2 separate regions of the Homo sapiens genome follow, and region 1 is linked to region 2. The links come from fine-mapping of genetic effects on gene expression. Tissue or cell type: whole blood. Region 2 holds a variant in brackets; the other region holds the start of a gene. All regions are shown on one strand. Distances are between the middles of the regions.

The links. PIP is the estimated chance that this variant, and not a neighbour inherited with it, causes the effect.
Region 1: it holds the start of ZNF415, and the variant in region 2 is fine-mapped to the expression of ZNF415 in whole blood (TOPMed, PIP 0.95).

The regions. Positions count from the first base shown.
Region 1 is chr19:53,128,116-53,136,222 of GRCh38, reverse strand. It overlaps ZNF415 (zinc finger protein 415), which reads left to right and starts at 3,313. Exons shown (of 4, transcript NM_018355.4): 1 at 3,313-3,367. ZNF347 (zinc finger protein 347) reads left to right here. Exons shown (of 5, transcript NM_032584.3): 5 at 1-1,288.
Region 2 is chr19:52,731,705-52,739,811 of GRCh38, reverse strand. ZNF611 (zinc finger protein 611) reads left to right here and starts at 4,768. Exons shown (of 6, transcript NM_001161499.2): 1 at 4,768-4,811. It overlaps LOC124904760 (a long non-coding RNA gene), which reads right to left and starts at 5,781. Exons shown (of 2, transcript XR_007067328.1): 1 at 5,352-5,781; 2 at 4,108-5,018. RefSeq lists enhancers at 4,353-4,482, 3,795-4,780 and a silencer at 4,663-4,732. The variant C/G (reference allele first, on the strand shown) is at 4,651.

The DNA of each region.
Region 1 (8,107 bases), 400 kb before region 2:
CTTGTAAATCTTTAGTTCAATTAAAGTACAGGGATACTAGATGGTGAAATGAAGTCTCTTAATATGGAAGTTATCAAAGATCAGATGCTTGAAAATCAAGCGTGTGGAGGTTAACCAGCATCTGGAGAAGTAAATGAAAATACAGTTAATAAGAGAGTCCCCAAGATATTAATTATCATTTATGCAAAGGAGATAATTTCTCTCATTGAATCCCTGGAGGCAATTCAACTTCCTACTGTGGCTGGTATTTCTTTTCTGAGCCAGAGGATCTTACAGCAAAACATGATATTTGTGCAACTTTTGCAATGACAGCTGCCATTTAATATACTCCCCTTAGATTTGTTTCCATTTTAAAAAACTGATATATATTCTTTAATAAGTGATTTATCTTTGCATATATATTTTATATCAATCACATTTAGAGTAAGAATCACAGTTATTAATGCTTTATGTGTAACAACTGAATCATCAGCTCCTGAAATAAGTATTAATGATATTCTCATTTCAGAGGTGAGGAAACTTAGGACAGATAAGCAAAATAATCAAATTAGGCTGGGCACAGTGGCTCATGCCTGTAATCCCAGCACTTTGGGAGGCCGAGGCGGGGGGATCACCTGAGGTCAGGAATTCGAGACCAGCCTGATCAACATGGTGAAACCCCGTCTCTACTAAAAATACAAAAATTAGCTGGGTGTGATGGCGGGCGCCTGTAATCCCAGCTATTCGGGAGGCTGAGGCAGGAGAATTGCTTGAGCCTGGGAGGCGGATGTTGCAGTTAGCCGAGTTCCCACCATTGCACTCCAGTCTCAGTGACAGAGCGGGACTCCATCTCTCTCTCTCTCTCTCTCTCTCTTTCTCTCTCTCTCTCTCTCTCTCTCTCTCTATATATATATATATATATATATATATATATATATATATATTTAGAAAATGGGTAGAACTATGAAGAGACATTTCACTGAAGCAGTTATACTGAGATAAATAGGCACATAAAAAGATTTCCAACATCACCATCCATCAAATCTCAGATCTCAGCATATTCTGCTTTAAAAGACTCATCTTGTCACATTTCAGTAAGAGGCAGAATCGAGATTTGAATCCATGTTGTCTGGTTGCAAAGACAAAGCTTTTAATGATGATGCTACAGTAACAATGCTAGTTATTTTTGTCCTTTACTCACCATCTATACCTATTTTGTTAGTATCTCTTGTAATTTTTAAATGGTTTATCTTCATATATCATTGTGATTGTGGTAACTTTGTATTAAATCTATATTTTTATAGATCAATTAAGTCTATATTTTATAGATCACTATTGCGTATGCATCTTACCTAAATGAATGACAGAGACACTCATTACCACATAATCCTGTAAGAACGATTATCCAATCTTTCGAAGGAGGCATCCAGTACCTGAGGTGTTAGTTCTAGTGGTGGCCAGGCGCTGTAGCTCACCCCTGTAATCCCAGCACTTTGGGAGGCCAAGGGGGGTGGATCTCCTGAGGTCAGGAATTGGAGACCAGCCTGGCCAACATGGTGAAAACCCATCTCTACTAAAAATACAAAAAATAGCTGGGTGTGGTGGCGCGTGCGTGTGGTTGAAGCTACTCAAGAGGCTGAGGCAGGAGAATCGCTTGAGCCTGGGAGGTAGAGGTTACAGTAAGCTGAGATCACACCACCGCACTCCAGCCTGGGTGACAGAACAAGACTCTGTCTCAAAAAAAAAAAAAAATCACTAATAATGACAAAGTGCATATTTCTTGAGCTGAGAATATTTTTGTATCTGTGTTTCCATTGTTCGTTTCCAAAAACAATTACAGGTTGCTAATACACATCAACTGGACTGTTCAGTAGAAGCTCCTGTGTTTCTCATGATCTCTGACAGCATCCAGGGGTTCACATGGAGAAAGCAGAATATGCTGAGGTCTGAGATTTGATGGATGGTGATGTTGGAAATCTTTTTATGTGCCCATTTATCTCAGTATATCTGCTTCAGTGAAATGTCTCTTCATAGTTCTATCCATTTTCTAATTTGATTATTTTGCTTTTTTTTTAAGTCGTTCTAGGATTCTTTATACATTCCACATACCAGTTTTATGTCAGATATATGGTAGGCAAATATTTTCTATTATTCAGTACTGTATTAGTCCATTTTCACACTGCCTAAACCCTCCTGTGACAACCTGAGACTGGGTAATTTATAAACAAAAGAGGTTTAATTGACTCACAGTTCCGCATGGCTAGGGAGCCCTCAGGAAACTTACAATCATAGAGGAAGGCAAAGGCGAAGCAAGGCACGTCTTGCTTGCAGCAGGAGAGAGAGCGATCAAAGGAGGAACTATCACAGATTTTTAAACCATGAGATCTCCTGAGAGCTCACTATCATGAGAACGGCTTGGGGAAAACCACCCCCATGATCCAGTCACCTCCCACCAGGTCCCTCCCTCAACACCTGAGGTTTATACTTGAAAATGAGATTTGATGGGGACACTGAGCCAAACCATATCAAATACCTTTTCTTTCATCGTCTGAAGGTCTTTCACAGACCAAAAGTTTTTAATTTGGTAAATACCAGTTGATTTTTTTTTTCTTTAATGAATCATGCTTTTGCTGCTATGGCTAAGAATTTTTGAACAAGCTCTTGATTCTTACGATTTTATTGTGAGTAATTTTTTCTTTCAGTCTCCTACAGGATACCATTTTATGGTTTGATATTTTACATTTAGGCTATGGTCAATGTTGAACTAATGTCTGTACGGTTGTGAAGTTTGAGTAGAGATGACTTCTTTCCTGCTGTGGATATTAAGTTAGCCCCTCACCAGTTTTTAAAAATTCTTCATTCAATTCCCTTGGTAACTTTGTCAAAAATCAGTTGGAAGTACCTGTAGAGGCTATTTTTGTACTCTCTTACTGTATTGCATCAATCCATATGTCTTTTATTGCCCCAAAACCACACAGTTTTTATTACCTTTCCTATATTGGTAGTCTTGAAATCCAGTGGAGTGATTCCAGACACTTCATTTTTGTTTTTTGGTAACTTTTATGGATCCAATCACTGCTAGTTTTGGATTCCCCACCGAAATCCCAGTTCCCGGACTGCTAAGCTGCAGGAGACTCCCTAGCAGGATCGGGTCCAACCTGCAGGCAAAATAGTTTTAACATAAACCGTTTTCAACTTGGTAAGTGGAAAACATTTTGGTTTCCACCATAAGTGGCCCACACAACTCTGATTTTTTTACCTTAAAGCGGCGCAGACCCCGCCCACTCCAGCCATTCCTTCAGGCTGCCCGGGCTCTTCTCTCCGCGCATGCGCAGTTTCCTACAGGCCCGGAAACGGATCGCGTTGGGTGAAGGTGACGGCGTCGAGCGTGAGTGACCCTCTGTGTAGATTAAACCTGCGCTCCCTGTTTCCCATTTCCACAGCCGATGTCCAGGGTCGATACGGCCCTTAAAATCCCCGTACACTCCACCCCAGGTGAATACAGGCCTCGCAGTGTGGGTCCGGAGTCGCTTCCCTTTGGGTTGAAGTCGCTTTGAGGCTGCTCCCCGTCCCCGGCCTTTTGCTTCTTCCTCCCGCTTAAAACCTTTTCCTGACCCCCTCCCCCATCCCCGGGCTTTTTAAAGTCTTCACCCAAGAGGTGTATTCCCGTCCTGGGTGCCTCCCAGCCTTGCCCTCGTCGGCCCCTGGAGCGCAGCGCCGCAGCTGCAGCCGCAGTCCCGGGGAGCCTTGCGTCCTCTGCCTGGTCCTGGGATCCTGCAGACCCCACCCCTGTCTGAAGGCGCTGTCGCGCCCCACCTCCCTCCTCCTCGTGCCGGGCCCCGCTGCTCCCCAGGCCTCCCCTGAGCCCGCGCTGGGGAGGTGCTCAGGGCCTGTCCTGTGACACCCGATGTTCTTGCCTGCCCTCCTCCACCCCGTGGAAAATGCGCTCCTCCAGGATGCAGGCGTCTTACCCCAAACCGTCCTGTGAATGTGTGGGCCAAAGGGATCGAGGGACAGAGAGAGCAGTAGAAAACCTGAGACAGGAAGGAATGAGGCAAACCAATAAACAGATGGCAAAGTAGAGGATGGTTAGAGATTTTCAGAGACAGTAAGAGTGGAAGAAGAAGCCGAGAAAGTAGCAGGGAGAGAAAAGTAACTAGACACATTTCGAGAAAAAGCACAGTATCCAGAGAGATGAAGGACAGCCAGGTAGGGAGAGGGGCAGCAAAGGAGGAGGCTCCTCAGACAGAGAGTGGGGGAGAGCAGAAGGGATTTGGAGCCAGGGCAGACAGGGCAGTGTGGTACCGGGACAGCAAGAGGGGGCAGCCGATGACAAGGAGAAGCAGAGGGAGAACCACAGCACGGGGAGGCCTGGGATCTGGGGGTGCCAAAGAGTGGGGACAACGGTGTGTAACAGGGAAGAGGGAATTTAACAGGGAGTGCTGAAATGGGGAAGAAAGAGCCAGAAATATGTGGAGACTGGGACAATGAAAAGATTAGGAAGAAAGAGGAATTAAATACATTGCAAGAATGGAAAGAGCAAGTGGAAGAGAAAGAATAGAGGGAAGACGGGGAGGAGCAGCAGGAGAGGAGAGGGGCTCAAAATGAGCAGAATCCTAGGGAGAAAATAAAGGGGAAGGAAAGAGCTAGAGAAAGAAGGTGAGAATGAGAGCGATGTACGGAACGAGGGAGGGAAACACACCATAATGAGGAAAGAGGGGGACCCCAGGTCCAGGTGAGTTGTGAACTGACTGGATGTGATGACTACCTTTTGACCTGTTGATTTCTGTCTTTATAAGTTTAAAATGCACAGATGATGAGAATTGCAAAGCTCCTGTCTATTAAGGCTGGTGCATTTTATAATTATGGCATCAGAAGTTAGCTTCCACTTGCAATCCCTGTTAAGGCAGAGGGAAGTGACTTGACTCATTAATTCCACAGGTCATCCTCTTCCCCTTCCCTGGCGTTGGGGCAGGGGGAGGGGAAGGGGGAGTGGGAGAGTAAAGCTGGGCAGAAAGTGAAAGACTGTCACTACATAGTGTCTCTCTAAAGCAGGGGTGTCCAATCTTTTGGCTTCCCTGGGCCACATTGGAAGAAGAATTGTCTTGGGCCACACATAAAGTACACTAACACTAACAATAGCTGATGAGCTAAAAAAAAAAAAAAAAAAAAAAAAAAAAGTTGCAAGAAAATCTCAAAATGTTTTAAGGAAGTTTAGGAATTTGTGTTGGGCTGCATTCAAAGCCTTCCTGGGCTGCGGATTGGACAACGTTGCTCAAAAGGAACATTAAAAGTGTTGAGGCTGGGCATGGTGGCTCATGCCTGTAATCCCAGCACTTTGGGAGGCCGAGGTGGGTGAATCACAAGGTCAGTAGTTCAAGACCAGCCTGGCAAAGATGGTGAAACCCCATCTCTACTAAAAATACAAAACTTAGCCAGGTATGGTGACACGCATCTGTAATCCCAGCTACTCAGGAGGCTGAGGCAAAGCATTGTGTAAACCCGGGAGGCGGAGGTTGCAGTGAGCCAAGAGCCGAGATCCGGTGACAGAGCAAGACTGCGTCTGAAAAAAAAACAAAGAACAAACAAAAAAAGTGTTGTTGCTTTTTGTAATTGATTTGCTTTTTTTCTTACTAATTCCCTTTCATCTCATGTATAGTTCATTTTGCAACTTGAGATAGATCTTCATTAATTCAGTTTCTATTTTTCTGTATATAATTATTTCCAAAGTAACTTTGGTGGCATCCTATAATCAGCTCATGGCATTTTCTAAATATAATGTGTTTTCAATTTTTTTAGCTCCAAAATTCATCAGATATTTCTTAACAATTTCAAAATCTTTCCCTTTGAAATTAATTGTGTCCAGTTTTGATAGAGGTCTGCATGCTTTCTGCTCTTTATTATATAATAGAAGCATTATTTGTTGACTAGTAGGTAATTTTAGATTGTTTCAATGTGTACCTGATAAAGATGTCAATGATGTTTTTACCTTAACATGGAAACCTAGTTTAACTAGTCTATTATTCAATTTTCTTCTTTTGTGTAATTTGTTAAAATAGTAAGCTGTGAGCTGCATTTGGAACCAATGTGATAAAACCTTGAAGAAGTTTCTTTTGCTCAGATATGTGAAAGAGGGTCTGGGAATTTTCTTTTTTTCTTTTCTTTTTTTTTTTTTTTGTGAGCTGGAGTCTTGCTCTCTCACCCAGGCTGGAGTACAGTGGTGCAATCTCGGCTCACTGCAACCTCCGCCTCCCGGGTTCAAGCGATTCTCCTGCCTCAGCCTCCTGAGTAGCTGGGATTACAGGCACAGGCCACCACACCCGGCTAACTTTTGTGTTTTTTGATAGAGATGAGCTTTCATCATGTTGGCCAGGCTGGTCTCAAACTCCTGGCCTCAAGTAATCTCCCCTCCTTCAGCCTCGAAGTGCTGGGATTACAGGCACGAGCCAACATGCCTGGCCAGTCCTGGAATTTTCTAAGGGAGATGTGATAAAGGCAAACACAGCCCATTGGCCCTTCCAGGTCGTGACATCATAATTCAGCCACATCTCCTCCTTCTCACTCAACTCAGACCTCTCAGGATAACTTGGTGAAATGACTCCCTCTCTCAGCCTCAGTGAGCCCACCTGTAACAGAGATAAGGGACTAGACCAGAAAACCTCAATGTGAGCAACACTGACTCCTGAAATTTGGGGCAAAATTGGGTGTGCATTTGTGTTTGGCAGTTGTATGTGGGGGGACTAGCCAGTTGCAATTAAAATTTTTATTTGGATTTCTTCCTCTAAAAATGAAAACAAGAATGTGAAGCAGGGACTCAGACACAGAGACCATCTTCGGGGCCTTTCTCTGTATGAGGACATCACAGAGAAATCTAAAGCAGGTCACGTCAGTCCCTGGCAGGGAACCCTCCACCAGCTTCCTGTGTTCCCCAGGACAAAAGCCCAACTCCTCACTGTGGCTCCACAGCCCTGTGTCCAGGGCCCCTGCCAGTGTCCAGCCTCCTCCTGGGAGCTTGCCCTCATCTCATGACTCCCTCTGCACCAGTCACATTTGCTTTTCTCTTTTCCCAAATGTCAAAACCCTTCCTGTCACGGGTCGTTGTCCCTGCTTTTACCCTATGTCCCTAAATGATCGTGACCCTGTCCCTTTTTCCTCCTTCGGGTCTAGACTGAGAGATGTCTCCCGTGCCCTCCCACCCCCATCTGAAATTCTCTCTGCCCGTCACTCTCTATCACATTATTCAGGTTTCACTGTCTCCGCATCCATCACCACATCGGACACTCTTCTGCGTGGATTATTTTGAGTGTTTTGTGTCTCCCTCCATTGGAGGACACAGTCTCCATCTGGGCCACGGGATGACTGCAGCACCTGCTCCGGGGTTGTGGTTCAGATGCTGGGGCTGGGGTTGGGCTGAAGACTCCTCAGGGAAGACCAAAAGGACAGGGCGGGTAGTGAGGATGGTCTCATATTCTGGAAATTTCATCTGTAATTGGTCTAAACTTCCTGTGGCTATTTATTCCAGTCTATGTAAGAGCAGAAGGCCTCACTGAGGCCTGAAAAGCCCCGCAGACCCTGTGTCCTCAGCCAGTGCCGAGGCGTCCCCACCGCCTTACTCCAGCTCCCGGGTCTTCCACGCTCTACACATCAGCGGGGCCCAGTGGCCATCCTGGGCAGGGGCTTTGCCTTCCAGCAGGTGATGCGCTCACAGTCAGGGGTCCTGGATTCCCTTCAGGAAGGGTGGCGAGAAGTTCAGAAGCTAAACGGGCCATGAAGGAGGCACTCCCTAAACAGCGGGGGAATTTGGCAGGGGACTGTGAGTGGAGAGACAAGGGGACAATGGCAGCCTCCCTCATGAGATCTGGGGCCTCTCTTTTTCTTGGACATCCTCCGTCAGCTCAGTCCAGCCAATCTTCACCTGCCTTTAAACTGGATTCCATGGTGTCCCCAAATTGGGGGCAATTCCTTCCAGCATGGCCAACTTCTAGAATCTAGACTTGAGGCCCACTGTCCTGCAGATAGCAGTTTGTGTCCATTCCTGCTTTTGTCCAGAGGCCCTTTTGCCTTTCAGCCTAGTGTGCTCTTCATGCATGGAAGAGAAGTAGAAAAATGAGGGAAAGTGAAGAAGCAT
Region 2 (8,107 bases):
GCTGGACAGCGGGTCGGTGCTGGGGGGCCGGAGGTTTACCCTGGTCTTGGAGGCGGGGCCTGAAATGGGGTGTTGTTCTTAAGGGCGGGGCCTGGCAGCGATGCGTCGGGGCTCTCTCCTCAGCTGGGTCCATGATGTGGCCTGCTGTCATCCTCTTGATCTCCAGCACTCGATCCCCCGGGTTCTGATTGGTGGATTGTTTCTGATGTGCCGTCATATTACCCCTAATATCACAGGGAGGCTTCCTGCCCGTTTTCAGTTAACATTTCAAACAATCGAAGGTAAAATAACATTTGGTAGTGGGCCATTTTGTACTGAATGCTGAATCGTTTTTTCTCCCAAGTTGAAAATGGTTTTAAGGCAAAGTGCCTTTTTTGAGCAGGTGGAGTCGCGCGTCCTGCAGGCGGGGCAAGCTCCCCTCAGGCTGGGACAGGTTGGGGTACAGGGGCAGGTACCTCGGTAAAGGGGTGGAGTGGGGCGCTGCTTACAACGGGGACTGATAATTTGAATGGCTTAGTAAACCAAGCAAGGTCCTGGGTTGTTTGAGCGGATAATGAAAGTAGAAAGGTGACATATAGAACTGCCTATTATACACAGAAGGTGGAAGAAAATTTCTTATTTCATGGAAATAAAGCCAGAACTCCGAGCGGTGGGTCACACCTGTCATCCCAGCACTTTGAGAGGCCAATGCCGGAGGATTGCTTGAGCCCAGGAGTGTGTGATCAGCCTGAGCAACATAGTGAGACCTCGTCTCTACTAAAAATAAAAAAACTCAGCCAGGTGTGGTGGTGCACACCTGTGTTCTCGGCTGCTTTGGGCACTGAGATTGAAACATCACTTGAGCCAGGGAGTTGGACGCTGCACTGATCCCTGATCTCACTAGCACACTCTAACCTGGATGACAGAGCTGGACCCTGTCTCAAACAAACAAGCAAATAAGTGAGAGGCATAATTCCTCCTTCGAAAATAAAGTAAGAGATTTTCTTTCCTGTAGACTCTTTTCTTAGGACATTTATTTAGAAAATGTGTAAATGAATTTTCTCTGTCTTCTGAAACAGTATTTTTTTTTTTTTGAGATGGAGTTTCGCTCTTGTAGCCCACGCTGGAGTGGAATGGCGTGATCTCCGCTCGCGGCATCCTCTGTCTCCCAGGTTCAAGAGATTCTCCTGCCTCAGCTTCCCGAGTAGCTGGGATTGCAGGCATGTGCCACCATGCCCAGTTAATTTCGTATTTTTAATAGAGAAGGGTTTTTTCCATGTTGGTCAGGCTGGCCTCAAACTACGACCTCAGGCGATCCGCCCGCCTCTGCCTCCCAAAGTGCTGGGATTACAGGCGTGAGCCACCGCGCTCGGACAGAAATGGAATTTTTTTAGAAACTAACTAAACCGCTTTTTAGCTTAATGACCCAGGAATGTATTTCCGAAGGACTTGGGAGCTCTGTCTGAAAGGCAAACAACAGAGATAGCACTTGTGTCTCAGTAGGAAATTAAGTAATTCAAATATCAAGTGATTCCAATTTAAAGCCATGGACCTTTAAATAATTCTGAGCCTTGAGAGGAATGTGGTCATGCAACCTGAGTTCAGAGGAATGCAGGCGCAACTTCTAGGAGTTTTTCTGTAAATAATTTGGAAAACTGGCCGTGAACAGTGGGTCACGCCTGTCATCCCAGCACTTTGGGAGACTGATTCTGGCAGATCACGAGGTCAAGAGATAGAGATTATACTGGCCAACATGGTGAAATCTCATCCCTAAAAAAAATACAAAAATCAGCTGGGCATGTTGGTGCTTGCCTGTAGTACCATCTATTCGGGAGGCTGAGCCACGAGAATTACTTGAACCAGGGAGTCGGAGGTTGCAGTGAGCCGAGATTGCACCACTGCACTCCAGCCTGGTGACAGAGCGAGACTCCATCTCAAAATAAATAAATAAATAACAATAACAATAAAAAAATTAGGAAGACTACAGAGCCCCAGTGATAAGACCTCCTCAGAGCATTGTCCCTTCTTATGTAATGATAAAGTAACTTTCCTTGAAGTGTATCAAATCATCACCAGTCAAGTTGCTGCAGCCTGTGCACTGGTCTTGAATGGAAAGTGTGGTGATTCTGCTAAAGCTTCTCTGTCTTTCCCTGTGTGTGAAACCTTAACGTCTCTACTTGGGAACGCTGATCCCATTCATTTGGAGTTGATGTTTCCAGGTGGCTTTCTTCAAGCTCTGTGTTCACATTAACTCTGTACTTAATCATATACTTTAAATTTTATTATTTACTGCTGACATCAGTGTCTGTCGTATGGTAGGAGCCTCACCAGAGAGGGCACCTGTCGCCATGTTGTAAAACTCACACTTGCCAAAAAGACATGGGTTAGAGTTTCTCCCCCTCCCTCAGGATGACGCTAGTTAGCTGACACAGATGGTCACCTCCATTACCAAGTAGAGCCAGGATGAACTATGTGTGACCAAGGGTGTTGTCAAGTCCTCTTCCTTGAGGACTGATTAGTATTTATCTTGAAAATATGTCCTTAATGGGTTGTATAGAACAGTGAAGTTTCTTTCTCTCTTTTCAATCTTTTAGCTGTTTGCCTCTATTTCCCATCACATTCTGGTCTAAGGTTTATTTATTAATAAAATGGTTTTTATTTCTTTCTCTGTTATCGTCGTGGAGATGATTTCTCATTTGGGAGGAGACTTTTTAGTTTTCAGTTATATTTTGTCAACATTTAAAAAGCGAAGCAAAGAATATTTCTGCGGCATGGCACGGTGGCTCACGCCTGTAATCTCAGCAGTTTGGGAGGCGGAGGCGGGTGGATCACGAGGTCTAGAGATCGAGACCATCCTGGCCAACATGGTGAAACACCGTCTCTACTAAAAAAAAATACAAAAAAAAAAAAACCCAAAAAAATTAGCCAGGCGTGGTAGCGGGAGCCTGTGGTCCCAGCTACTCCGGAGGCTGAGGCAGGAGAATGGCGTGAACCCGGGAGGCGGAGCTTGCAGTGAGTCGAGATTGCGCCACTGCACTCCAGCCTGGGCGACAGAGTGAGACTCCGTTTAAAAAAAAAAAAAAAAAAAAAAAGAATATTTCTGGCCGGGCGCGGTGGCTCACGCCTGTAATCCCAGCACTTTGGGAGGCCGACGCGGGCGGATCACAAGGTCAGGAGATAGAGACCGTCCTGGCTAACTCGATGAAATCCCATCTCTACTAAAAATACAAAAAATTAGCCAGGCATGTTGGCTCACGCCGTAACCCCAGCACTTTAGGAGGCTGAGGCAGGCAAATAACTTGGAGTGAGGAGTCCGATACCGGCCTGGTCAACATGGTCAACCCCGTCTCTACTAAAAATACAAAAATTAGCCTGGCATGGTGGCGCACGCCTGTAATGCCAGCTGTTCCCAAGGCTGGGGCAGGAGAATCGCTTGAACCCAGGAGGCAGAGGATGCATTTAGTCGAGATCTCGCCACTGCACTCCAGCCTGGGCAACAGAGAAATACTCTGTCTCAAAAATAATAATAATAATAATAATAATAATAATAATAATACAAGAAAGTAATAGATCTCTTCCATAAATGTGCTAGGACAACTATCTGGATATCCACATGGAAAAGAATAATGTTGGATCCCTATGTCACACAATCAAAAATTTTATTTGCGAAAGTTTTTTTTAAAAAAAAAGAGAGAGAGAGAGACAAGAAAGGGAGACCGCGGCAGTGGGCGTTATTTTGTCGCTCAGGCTGGCTTGGAACCCGAGGCTCAGGGATCCTCCCGCCGCTGCTTCCTGAGTAGCTGGGACCTCAGGCTCCCGCCCCCGCGCCTCTGCTGTCTTTAAGCAGCAGGTGGTGACCTCACTCCTTCTCGGCCTGAGCACTCCGTCCGGCATTCCAGGCGGTGGCTTCAGGGAAGTCTCTGAAGCTGAGCACAGGGCGGAGTCTCCTTCCGGAGTGAATGGACAATAGAAAGGGAGAGGATATCTATCTGTTCTGTGGGACCTCAGCATGACATGGTACATACCGCCCAGGCAGGGCTTTGCATTTCACATTCTAGTTTGTATCCCTGTTCCAGACAATTACAGTGTAGCAGGACGAGTCGCAGACAAAACCTCTCAGACACCGAGTTGTAGAAGGAAGGGCTTTATTCAGCTGGGAGCATTGGCAAGCTACTGCCTTAAAATCCAAGCTCCCCGAGTGCACAATTTCTGTCCCTTTTAAGGGCTCACAACACTAAAGATTTCAGATGAAAGGATAGTGACTGATTGAGCAAGCAAGGGATACGTGACAGGGGCTGCATGCACCGGTGATCAGGGAGAGAGAGAACAGGGCAGGAGTTTCACCGTGTTCTTCTATACAATGTCTGGAATCTATGCCTAACATCAGCTTCTAAATCATAAGTTGATTTTTAACTACTGGGTTTAGGCCAGGCGGATCCAGGCCTGGTTTCGGGCCTGGCGCGGGGCTGCCTGTCTTTGGTTTTACTTCCTGTTGTTTTTACTGACTATAAAACAATATAAAACAATGTCAGAGGGTCTCTCTCTTCTCTCAACAGGGCTTTTGTATCATGCCTCAGACTTTCTGGCGCTCTCGCCTCCAAAACCTGAAAACAGAGACGCTGGGAGCGAGGCTGAGAGACGCGCAGATCCCGCCCCGGCCCTGCCCTCTGC[C/G]GGTTCTAAAAGGCAAGGTCTCTCCGCCTCGCGCCCCGCCCCTACCTCGCCCAGGCCCCGCCTACCTCCCACTTCCCGCCCAGGCCTGGCTTTTGTCCTGCGCGCGCAGATTAACGCAAACCCGGAAGCGGATCGGGTGGAGTGTAGGTCATATCGCCGCGGTGAGTTTTGCTCTGTGTTGTATTAAGTCTGCGCTAACTAGGTTCCCAGGGCTTCTGTCCCTGGGACGTGGGGTCCCCACAGACCTGGAAATTCTCCGGCGTCTTCCTTTGCCCAGAGCAAATTGAGACATCCCCGTGAGAGCCCGAGGGTCGCTTCCTTTTGGGTTTAAAGTCGTCCTGAGGCTGGTCTCGTCCCCGGTCTTTCTGCTATAGGTCAATGTATACACTTTCTGTTGCGTAGTTTTCCTGCTGAAAACCTTGTTCTGACTCCTCGCGCCCCGCGCTTTTTAAAGTCTTCACCCGCGATGTGGATTCTTGCCCAGGGCGCCTCCCAGCCTCCCCCTCCTCAGCCCCGGGAGCGCCGCGCCGCAGCCCCAGTCCCGGGGAGGCCGAGTCCTCTGCCAGGTCCTGGGATCCTGCAGACCCCATCCTGGTCCTAAGGCGCCGTCGCGCCCCCCCCCCCCGCCCCGCACCTTCCTCCTCATGCCGGGGCCTGCTGCTCCCCAGGTCTCCCCTCCGCAGTCACCGCTTTCATTGAACCTGCACTGGGGAGGTCCCAGGGGCCTGTCCTGCGGCACGGGGTATTCTTGCCTGCGGAGCTCCAGGGCGTGGAAAATGCGCTCCTCCGGGATGCAGGCGTCTTACTCCAAACCGTGTTGCGATTGTGTGGGCCAAAGGAATCAGGAGACAGAGAGCAGTAGAAAACCTGAGGCAGAGAAAAGAAGAATAAGAAAGGCCCATAACAGATGGCAAAATAGAGGATTGGTGAGGGATATGCCAAGAGATGGCAGAAGTGAAAAAAAAAAAAAAAAACCTAAGAAAGCAGGAGGAGAAAAGCAACCGGAGAAATGTAGAGAAAGGCTAGATAGATGTACAGAGAGATGAAGGATCACAAGGTAGGGGGAGTGGCAGCAAAGAGGGAGACTCATCAGAGTGAGGGAGAGAGGGAAGGATTTGGAGCCAGGGCAGACAGAGCAGAGTGGTGCTTGTGTCAAGGAGAACAGAGGGAGAACCACAGCAGAGAGGACAGCTGGGATCTGGGGAGACACAGAGTGGGGACAAGGGAGTATATCGGGGAAGATGGAATTTAACAGGGAGAGCAGAGGAGGCGCAGAGATGGGAGAAGAGGCAGAAATAGATGGAGATTGAGGACGATTGAAAGATTGGGGAGAAGGAGCAATAAGAGGTTAAATAAGTTGTGAGGATGGAGGAGAAGAGGTGGAAGAGAAGGAATAAAGGGAAGAAGGGGATGAATAGCAGGAGAGGAGAGGGGTACAAAATGAAGAGCAGAATCCCAGGGAAAAAGAAAAGAAAACAAGAGCTAGAGAGAGAAGGGGAGAATGAGAGATATGTACAGAATTAGGGAGGGAAGCACAGTAATGAAGAAAGAGGGTCTGGACACAGTGGCTCACGCCTGTAGTCTGTAGTCTCCACACTTTAGGAGACTGAGGCAAGGGGATTGCTTGAGTCCAGGAGTTCGAGACCAGCTTGGGCAACATAGTGAGACCTCCCCCCCGCCAAAAAAGTAAGTAAATAACCGGGCATAATGGTGTGCACCTGTACTCCCAGCTGCTCTGGTGGCCAAGCTGGGAGGATGACTTGAGCCCAGGAGGTCCAGGCTGCAGTGAGCTGAGATCATGTGACTACACTGCAGCCTGGTCGTCAGAGCGAGACCTTGTCTCCAAACAAAAAAAAAGGGGCGAGAGACTGGGTTCAGATGAGTGGGTGAGTTCATTGGATATGATTGGTTGTGACATGTTGAGTTCTGTATATATAATCTAATAACTAAAAACTTGTTTAAATTACACAGATGAGATTGAGAATTTTAAAATTCGTATCTATAAGACATGTACATTCTATAAATCTTGGCATCAGAGGTTATGTTCCACTTGGAATCCCTATTTGCCAGAGGGCAGTCACTTATTCAGTTGTGAATCACTGTCTCCCCTTTTCCTAGGATGGGGTAGGACGTGGGTCAGTGAAGTGGGAAAATAGTCACTGTCTGTTGTTACAAAATACATTTAATTAATTAATTAATTAATATTTTGAGACAGGGTCTGACTCTATCACCCAGGCTGGTGTGCAGTGGCGTGATCTCCTCTAACTGCAGCCTCGACCTCTTAAGTTCAAGCCATCCTCCTTCCTCAGCCTTCTGAGTAGCTGAGACCAGAGGCATGAGCCACCAAGCCCGGCTAGTTTTTGTATTTTTTTTTTTTTTTGTAGAAACGGAGTTTCACTATGTTTCCTAGGCTGGTCTCAAAATCCTGGGCTCAAAGGATCCTCCTGCCTTGGCCTCCCAAATTACTGGGATTACGGGTGGGATTACAGGGAGGAGCCACCGTGTCTGGCCTACTTAGCCCTCAATACATTGAGTTATTCTGAATAACTCAATAACTCAATACTGTGAGTTATTCAGAATAACTCAATACTGTGAGTTATTCTGAATAACTCAATACTGTGAGTTATTCTGAATAACTCAATACTGTGAGTTATTCTGAATAACTCAATACTGTGAGTTATTCTGAATAACTCAATACTGTGAGTTATTCTGAATAACTCAATACTGTGAGTTATTCAGAATAACTCAATACTGTGAGTTATTCAGAATAACTCAATACTGTGAGTTATTCAGAATAACTCAATACTGTGAGTTATTCAGAATAACTCAATACTGTGAGTTATTCAGAATAACTCAATACTGTGAGTTATTCTGTTTTCTTTTTTCTTTTTTGAGATGGAGTTTTGCTCTGTCACCCAGGCTGGAGTGCAGTGGCACGATCTCAGCTCACTGCAAGCTCCGCCTCCCGGGTTCACGCCATTCTCCTGCCTCAGCCTCCGGAGTAGCTGGGAGTACAGGCTCCTGTCACCACTACCAGCTAATTTTTTGTATTATTAGTAGAGACAGGATTTCACCGTGTTAGCCAGGATGGTCTCAATCTCCTGACCTCGTGATCCGCCCGCCTCAGCCTCCCAAAGTGCTGGGATTACAGGCGTGAGCCACCCGCCCGGCCATTTTTTTTTCTTTTTTTGAGAGGGAATTTTGCTCTTGTTGCCAAGGCTGGAGTGCGATGGCATGATCTCAGCTCACCACAACCTTGGCTTCCTAGCATCAAGCGATTCTACTGCCTCAGCCTCCTGAATAGCTGGGATTACAGGCATGCACCACCACGCTCGGCTAATTTTGTGTTTTTAGTAGAGACAGGGTTTCTTCATGTTGATCCAGGCTGGTCTCTAACTCCCGACCTGAGGTGATCCACCTGCCTCGGCCTCCCAAAGTGCTGGGATTACGGGCGTAA